Homo sapiens: one gene and its partner. The protein of the gene in region 1 interacts with the protein of each later gene in a pairwise test. Each region holds a gene or a part of one and is shown on either strand. Other genes may lie near its edges.

Region 1 (4,511 bases):
ATAAGCTGGGCCACTCTAATTGCCTGATCAACACACTGTGACCTGCCTGCCCTCTGTAGGCATTTGAATTTGTGCTTCCCCTGACATGGACAATCTCCAGGGCCTCTCCCAGCTTTGAGTCTCAATAAGAAGTGACCACTGTAGGGTCTTTCAAACAAGCCAGGAAGTTCATCCTAAGACAAGAAAGTTTCTGGGGCTCCTCCAGTCCTAATGGGGAGGTAGCAATCTACAGTGTTGGGCTGGACCTCTCGGCTTCTCTGGTTTTCTAGTCTGGCACTAGAAGTGGTAAAGGAACTTTTTCCCCTCCCTAGTGGGAAAGGAGGTGCTGGCTGTCCTATCTCAGGGCAGAGTCAATAAGCCCAGCTCTCTGTCCCACCTGAGTCATCGAGTTTTTTTTAACCCTTCCTCTCCTAAACCCTTGGGTCATCAGGCACCTTGCTGCCTGTACAGCCACTGCATGTTCCTCTCCATGTTCTCCCTCCCCAAACACATAGACAAGTGTCTCAGGATCAAACTGGTGAACTTACTAACCTCTCTGGGCATGGGCTCGGCCCTGTACCTCTTTTTATCTACCAGCATTTAGCATGGTGCATTGCACATAGTAGGTGCTTAAACAGTGTTAGATGTCCACGGTGATGATTATGGTCGCTACTGTTGGCTTTGGAGGAGGAAGGCTCTGGCACTGGCTGCTTGGAAAAAGAAAAGGGATGGAAGATCTGCCATTCCTTCCCAAACTGGTGGTGATAGGTGTTGATATGGAGAAAAGAGCTCCCCCTGAAACCCACACTCACCTACACACACCTTTCCCAACACAGCAAGCCAGAGGCAGCCCTGCCCCGAGTGGTCTACCCCCACGCCCCAAGGCCCAGAACAGTTCTCACCGCCCCATGAGTGACCAAGTGGCAAGTTCCCCCATCTCTCCTATATTTTATCTCCTTTCCTCCTCCGTTGAAAATCTAGACTTCGGGAAAGGTACTGGCTGTTTCTTTCCAAGCTGCTTTCAAATCTGCCCCCCTTTTCCGTAATCTTGAGGTCCAGTTACAAGGTTCAAGTTCCCCTCTTGCCCCTTCCTCAAGGTCATCTGTCCCGGCTTAGAAAAGGTGAGAGGCCACTGCTGATTGTCAAGAAGAGAACAGGCTTAAAAAGATGAGCTGAAGTGGGGAGGCCGAGGAGCAAGCAGGCAGGGAGGGCTGTGGAGAGAGGCCCCGAGGCCGAAGTGGGTTGGGGTGCCTGAGAAAAGCGGAAGGAGGTCGGATTCACTAGGGGCTGAAGGAAAAAGATGGGGTTAGGGCCAGAGAAGGTAGGATCGTGGTGAGGTCTAGACACAGGCAAGCTTCCAAACCCTCAGTCCCAATTCCGTTGGCCGGGAAGGAGTGCATGCCAGGGTAGCCCGCCCTCCCGGCTCCTGCTGCTCTCACCCCGCCCCTCTGCAGAAAGCCTGGGCAGGATCGCAGGGGTGCGGGCAGAATCCAGCGCTCCTCTCTCCCCATCCAGACTCTCGGCCCACTCCCGCCTGGCGCGGCGGGCAGTCGGAACTACCCAAAGACTGGGCTCGAGGTGGGGGGCGGGGGCGGGGAGGAGGGGGCCAGAACGGCGCTGCAGGTGATCCTCCTCCTTGTTTAAAGTTTGCGGTGGGCAAAGGAGTCGGCTCCGTTGGGCCGGGTTTTCTCGAGCCTCGCCTTCTTCCTCCGCCGGTCCGGCGACCACTTCCCTCTTGGCTCCCGCCCCGCGCGGGTCCCCGATCCCCTCTCCCGTCTGCATCCCTCTCTGTGCCCGAGCGCCCCCCGCTCCCTCCCTCCTCGCTGGATCTCCCGCAGGACGTGAGCGGAAAGTGAATGGGCAGCCCCAACCACAAAGACAAATTACCATGAGAAACATAAATCGGGAAATCGCCGCTCGCGTCCCTGCTTCCAGCTGCCGCACCCCTCTCCACCCTCCCAGCCGGGAGTGCGGGGCCCTGAGCCACTGCCCCTGGAGCCTGGTGGGCAGAGTTCACGCTCCGCAGGCCTGGTCAGGGCAAGAGTGTCCTGGAGGCGGGTCTGGGAAGAATCCGGGCGGCGGCTCCGCAGGCGGCGGCGGTGGAGCAGGGACGTCCCTGAGCGGGAGATTTCACACTCTGGGCGGGCCACGCGTTCCCACGCGCCTCGCCGCCCGCACTCTCCCTCAGTGCTGTTTACTAGCCGGCCCTCTCTGAGCCTCCATCTCCGCACCTCTGTCCCTCCGTCCCTCAGCCTCACTCGTCCGTCTCCTTCTCCAGGCCTGGGTCCCGGGTCCCCATCGCCGCTGCAGCCCAGATGCGCCGACCACAGCCCTGGCAGGGCCCAGTGCAACCCGGACCCAAGCTGGCTGGCGGCGGGAACGCAGCAGCGATGAGGGCTCTCAAGCCGAGGTGGCAGCGGGAGGCGCGGAAGCCAGGGGACCCCCTGTCCTCCCGCCCGCAGCCTCACCTACCTGGCTTCAACTTGCCAGAGCCCGGACCCCTACCTCTCTACCCCGATACCCACCCGAGTTGCTGAAGTTTGCAAGTTGCAGCCCCAACCCGCGCAGGGGAAGCGCCCGGGGCTCCCGGGACTCACCTCCCAGAGGCGGGTGCAGGTGCCCGGTTCCCCGCGGCTCCCGACTCCCGGGCGGCGCGGAGCGGCGGGAGCTAACCAGATGGGCTGGCGGCCGGTCTGGGAATGGGGCGGCCGCGCAGGAACGGCCTCCAGCTCTCAGCGCTCCGGTGCAGTCCCCACCCGGGCCCGCGCCCGCTGCGCTCGGGCTCCCAGCAGCCGCTGGATGCGCTGCCGACCCGCCCGGCTCGGCGGAGCTGGGCTCTGGCACCAACCCCCGCGCTCCAACTAGCTCCCGACCCGGCGCTCGGAGAGAGCAGGGAGGAGGAGACCGCGGGAGCAGAAGGAGGGAGGGGGCGGTGGGGGAGGAGTTGCAAGCAAAGGGAGAGAAGGAGGGGAGCGGGAGCGAAAAAGAGGAGGGGGCTGGAGCAGACCTGCCGCGGCGGGCGCTGCACCCGCCAGCCTCGAGGCGCGCGGAGGAGCGCGAGGGGGCGCCCTGCATCCCGCGGCTGCTCGGCCGACTCCCGCCCCGGGCCTGCCGAGTGTGGTGACCAGCCCGGTGGGCCGAAGCCCCTTCCCCGGCCGGCATTCCGGCGGCAAGACCTAGGACTCCGAGCACTTGCCGCCGTTTGCCACATCCCGCCTTGCCGTTCTCGGTCACCCCATCTCGAATGTGACATCCCCGAGGGCCATCGGCGCGGCCTGCCCACCCCAACACTCAGGGCCTGAGGAAGCTCCCCCAAACCCCACTCCGGACTCCCACATTCCCCAGCCCCGTCAGTTCGGAACGATCTTCCTGCCTGTGGATTTGAAGGGGAAGGGACCTCGTGTAAAACGGGGGAGAGCCGTTATAACCTGCAGCGGCAGAGAGGGAGGCTAGGCTGCTGGGCTGGGCTGGAAAGCCAGAACTGGCCGGATTAGGGTTAACCTTGCAAACTGTACGATACCGAGCGAACCTCTCCAAGCCTCAGTTTCCTCAGCTGTAAACTGGGGTTAGTAATACGCACCCTACAGAATTGTGAAGAACGAGTAGGGGATACGGGGAGTAAAATAACATCAGGAACAGTGGGAGGGCAGCCAAGAGATGAGCGATCCGGGGAGGTGGTGGAGCGTTCTCAGCTGAGGACGGAAGGTTTAGCGCAATCACAAGGAGCGAGGCCGAATTGTTTACAAGTTTAAGTGATCTAGTGTTTCTGATGGCTAGAAGGCGGGAGAGAAAGATTCAAGGGGCAAGCTTCAAATCCTAGCTGCCCGGGCTGCAAGAGGGATGGGAAGGGAGCCCTCTGCTGAACAAAAAATATATTTGAAAATGTAAAAAAAGGTGACCTAAGAACGAGTGAGAAAGACAAAGGATTTGAAAAATTAAAACCAGGAAAGTGTGATTCTAAGAGATAACCAAAGAGAACTATGAAATAAAAATAGATAAGTTGGAGGAAGGAAAATATCAAAAGACTTTCTAGAGTATGCCAAAAATTGGATAATTAGAACAAAGTCTGAGTGAAGCATTTTACATAATAAAATTCTGGGTAAAGGAAAACCCAGATAAAGCAGAAGAATTGAGACACTAAGAGCCCCAGAGAAGCACCTCCTGCCTGCCATCCTCCTACCCCTGGACCATGGCAAGAAGCAGTTTGACAGGATAATGGGAAAGAAAGGGTGGTTCTGAATCCAAGAAGGGAGTTTATGAGACACTGTAAAAAGAGAAACAGTGCAAGATCTCAAAGATAGACTTTCTAGGGCAACAGAAATGCTGAAACTCATAATGTGCAGAATGGAGAGAAACTTGCAAAGGGAAAACACGCTCTGGACACAAAGGCAGAGATGCAGAGAAGAAAAGAAAGGAAACGGGCATGTGTGGGCATACCAGTCTGGTAGCCCAGTCTGGGGTAAAAATCAAGTTGGAAGAGGCAGCATGGGATATTGAGTCCAAATCTATCATTTTATCAACAAGGACAATGA
Region 2 (3,810 bases), on another chromosome or scaffold:
GGGAGGTAAATTTTAGTAACTGCTAAGGAACTCTCTTAAAATGTATAGTGCACCCACGTGCTTTTCAGAATGCAGCATTTGGGCAAGTACTCACTGTTGTACTTTAAGGCAGGGCTCTCCAACCCCTGGGCCACAGAACCAGGCTGCACAGCAGGACGTGAGCTGTGGGCCAGCCAGCAAAGCTTCATCTGTATTTACAGCCACTCCCCTTGGCTTGCATTACCACCTGAGCTCTGCCTCCTGTTGGCATTTGATTCTTATAAGAGCGTGAACCCTGGTGTGAACTGCACATGCGAGTGATCTAGGTTGCACACTCCTTATGAGAATCTAATGCCAGATGATCTGTCATTGTCTCCCATTACCCCCCAGATGGGACTGTCTAGTTTTAGGAAAACAAGCTCAAAGCTTCCATTGAGTCTACATTATGGTGAGTTGTATAATTATTTCATTATAGATTACAGTGTAGTAATAATAGAAATAAAGTGCCCAATAAATGTAATGCACTTGAATCATCCTGAAACCATCACATCCTCCCTCTCAGTGGAAAAATTGTCTTCCACGAAACTGGTCCCTGATGCCAGTCTGGTCCTGGAGTGCTGCTTTAAGGTCTTTGAAAAGAAGAACTGGCAGGACTTAATGTTATTTCCTTAAAACATTGGGATTAGAAGTTGTAGATGACAGTTATTTATATAAACACTGAAAATGTTTTTTAATAGAAGCAGAATCAAGAAAGTTGGTTTTTACACAATTTTTTAACTTCTATACATTTTTATAACTAGTTCATAGACCACTTTCATCTGTCTCATTTGATCATGGACAGTATGATGTGGAAAAAACACAGGATGGTCAGAGGATCAAAGGAAGTCACTTAGCCTCTCTGTGCCTCAGTGTCTTAAGACAGTCTTTTAAAAAGGCATCTCTTTATAGATAAGGAGTTAAAATTAAGTTAAATGTCAGATCCTGGCTTACAGAGCAAGTGATTTAGTGATTGTCAGAACTGAAGCTTCACCATTACTTTAACTATATTGAGCCAGAAATAGTTAAGAACTAAATGGCCCATAAAAATATATGAGGGGGGTCACATGGAAAAAAGTAGAGATTTGGAACTTAGGGAACCAAAATTATGAGAGCATATAAGCCCTTCCACTAATGAGAATTTAGAAGTGCAAATGGGTCCAGGTTGGTACAAATGCTTTAACTCTCATATGCCCAGGGGAAATAGTGGTTTTTTTAAATATTCTTTTAGTCTTTTACAAATAATTTTTAGAAATAATAATGGGAGATAGTGCAAAACAACTTTATTAGGAATTTTAATGTGAATTTAACAATAGCAAACCGAAATTTATATTCTTTGTTTTCCTGATTTTGATGTACATATAGTCATCCTTCAGTATGCTAAATGTGGGGGATTGGTTCCAGGACCCACCCACCTCTTTGGCAAATCTTGCATACTCAAGTTCTGCAGCCAGCCCTGTGGAACCTGAGAATAGGAAAAATCAGCCTTCCATATACTTGGGATGGATCTGCATTTGGTTGAAAAAAATCCACTTATAAGGGACCCTTGAAGTTCAAACCTGTCTCGGATTTGCATCATCAAAATACAATACTTGAGGAATTTTTGAAACCTATTGCTTACAATTTTGTAATTGTCATCCTTGCTCCATAATTGCAAAACATTTTTATTTTTAGATTATAAACTTAATTAGAATGATAAATTCGGTGAATATTTTTATTTCATTTTCCTTCCAGTCACCTTGTGTACACATCTGCCTTCACCCTTTGTCCATTTGCAACCAAATCAAGTAAATTTTGATGCATAAACATTGTAAAAGATGAGATAAAACACTCACACCTCCTTTTAGAAAATGGGATGATCCTGGCTCTTACTGTGAAATATTGCAAGATGAAGTCCTTCCTGCTGATGGCTCTCCCAGTGAGAGTACATTTCTTGTTTGTCTTTTTTTTCTTTTTCTTGTCAATTCTTGGGTGGGAGAAAAGCCTTCTAATATTTCCTCATCCAAAAACTCATAGTCTGAGATTTTTGCAGTTAATTTTATCATGATTAGTCTAGAATACGACTGCCTTTCATTTTGCATTCACCTTCTTCGTCTAATAATGATTAATGCCTTCTGTCAGTTTTTTCTCTTTGCCATTATGAATGGAAAATGAAAAATTGTGAATTCCCATCGGTGTTCAGTGAAAGCTAAAAGTAGACAACAGGTATGATGTCTTGAAAGATGATGATGAAATACTTTGGACAATACAATGAGAAAACTAATATCTTAAAAACTATTTAGTTATTTTTAGCATAGTTGAGAATAATGAATTATAAATAATGAATTATAAATAATGAACTATTAAAAACTATTAAAAAACAACAGTTTTTACATTTGTTTCAAAATGTAGGGAAAAAATACGCTCACTAGGATTCCATCATATTTCTTAGATTTATAAGAGTTCAGTGGACTCATTTGATAATTGCAAGATAGCATGAGTTTTAGTCTGTTCTTTTAAAAAATAAGTTTTCTCTTTGTTCTTTGGAAGACTTTTAAGAAAGAATAAAAGTAATGACATCTCAATCCTAACAAGTAACTAGAACTGCTAAAAAAAAAAAAAAAAAGGCAACTGAAAAGTTAAAATTTTCTCTCTTAAAAGTTAGCTCACTGATAAAGGCAGAATTTTTAACTTCAACTAACAACTGTGGCTGCCATCTAAGTTCAGAGTACTAGGTGCTCTAGGACCCTACCCTGCGAGGCAGTGGGTCTCAAAGTGTGGTCCCCAGATAAATAGCATCAGCAATCATTTAAGAATTTGTTGAAATTCAAATCCTAGAGCTCCACCCCAGACCCGCTGAATCTCTGGGGCTGTAGCCCTGCAGTCTGTTTTAACAAGCCCTCTAGGTGACGCTGATAGAGGCAAACTTTTGAGACTCAGCTCTGGCTGTAGGAGAACTAAAGGATTCTGCTGTGAGGTAATAGAAAAGGAGTAAATTTGAATGTGATGAATATGCTTAACTTCCTAAGCAAGAAAAATGAACGCTGTTTATAGTTACAACTGACAGGGGAAAAAAACTTGAGAGTTACAGGTAGACTTTAGATTTCGTAATACTTATTTTTATGCAAAAAAAATTTAATCAACCAATTTTTTTTCTAGCTGGGATCTAGCAATTGGGAGGCAGCAGACTTGGGTAATGAAGAGAGAAAACAAAAGTTCTTGAGACTTATGGGTGCAGGAAAGGTAAGCATCAGATGGTGTGCATTTTTACCTTTTCTGTGAAAATATTGCCATTTTTATGTATGCTAAGTAAGAAGGACTGAATATACTTGGATTCCATTTTCCTGTTCTGTGTGATTTCTTTTGGCTTTGGGAAATACATGTGGCCTAACCAAGCACATAAAATTTATATTATTTTTGAGCCACTTCTAGGATTCTCTGTCCGTATAGTTTGAAGACTGTACAGAGAAAAATTTGGTTCAAGGAGGCTGTATAGGAGAAAAGAGATGTCAAAGTTTATGATTTGCCATATGTTGGCCCAGTGGTTTGATAGAATATATTTCTTCTGGGTAGGTTATCTTGTGGGAACCTCTGGCCAAAGTGAAAAGGCTGTCATATTTTATAGCTCCCTCCAGCCCTTGAAGTAGTAACCAGAGGAATATCCTTTATCAAAAACTTAATTTTAAGACTACACTTTCAGAGATTATTTCTATAGTTTGTTACTAGATAGAGAAGTTTCTCTGAATGTGTAGAACACCAGGGGGAAAGAAAACCTTAATTTTAAAAATGTTCAAGATACTTTGAAATGCCTGTCAG

What was found.
Region 2: the proteins of SEMA5B (region 1) and C11orf58 interact in a two-hybrid assay, tested with the Homo sapiens proteins (one large-scale study listed by BioGRID and IntAct).

Annotation. Positions count from the first base shown.
Region 1 is NC_000003.12:123,024,888-123,029,398, forward strand, and holds the start of SEMA5B (semaphorin-5B), read right to left. Parts: upstream 2,877-4,511; 5' UTR 2,577-2,876; intron 1-2,576. UniProt on the Homo sapiens protein: May act as a positive axonal guidance cue.
Region 2 is NC_000011.10:16,741,448-16,745,257, forward strand, and holds part of C11orf58 (small acidic protein), read left to right. Parts: exon of another isoform or gene 1-2,220; intron 2,221-3,153; coding exon 3,154-3,237; intron 3,238-3,810.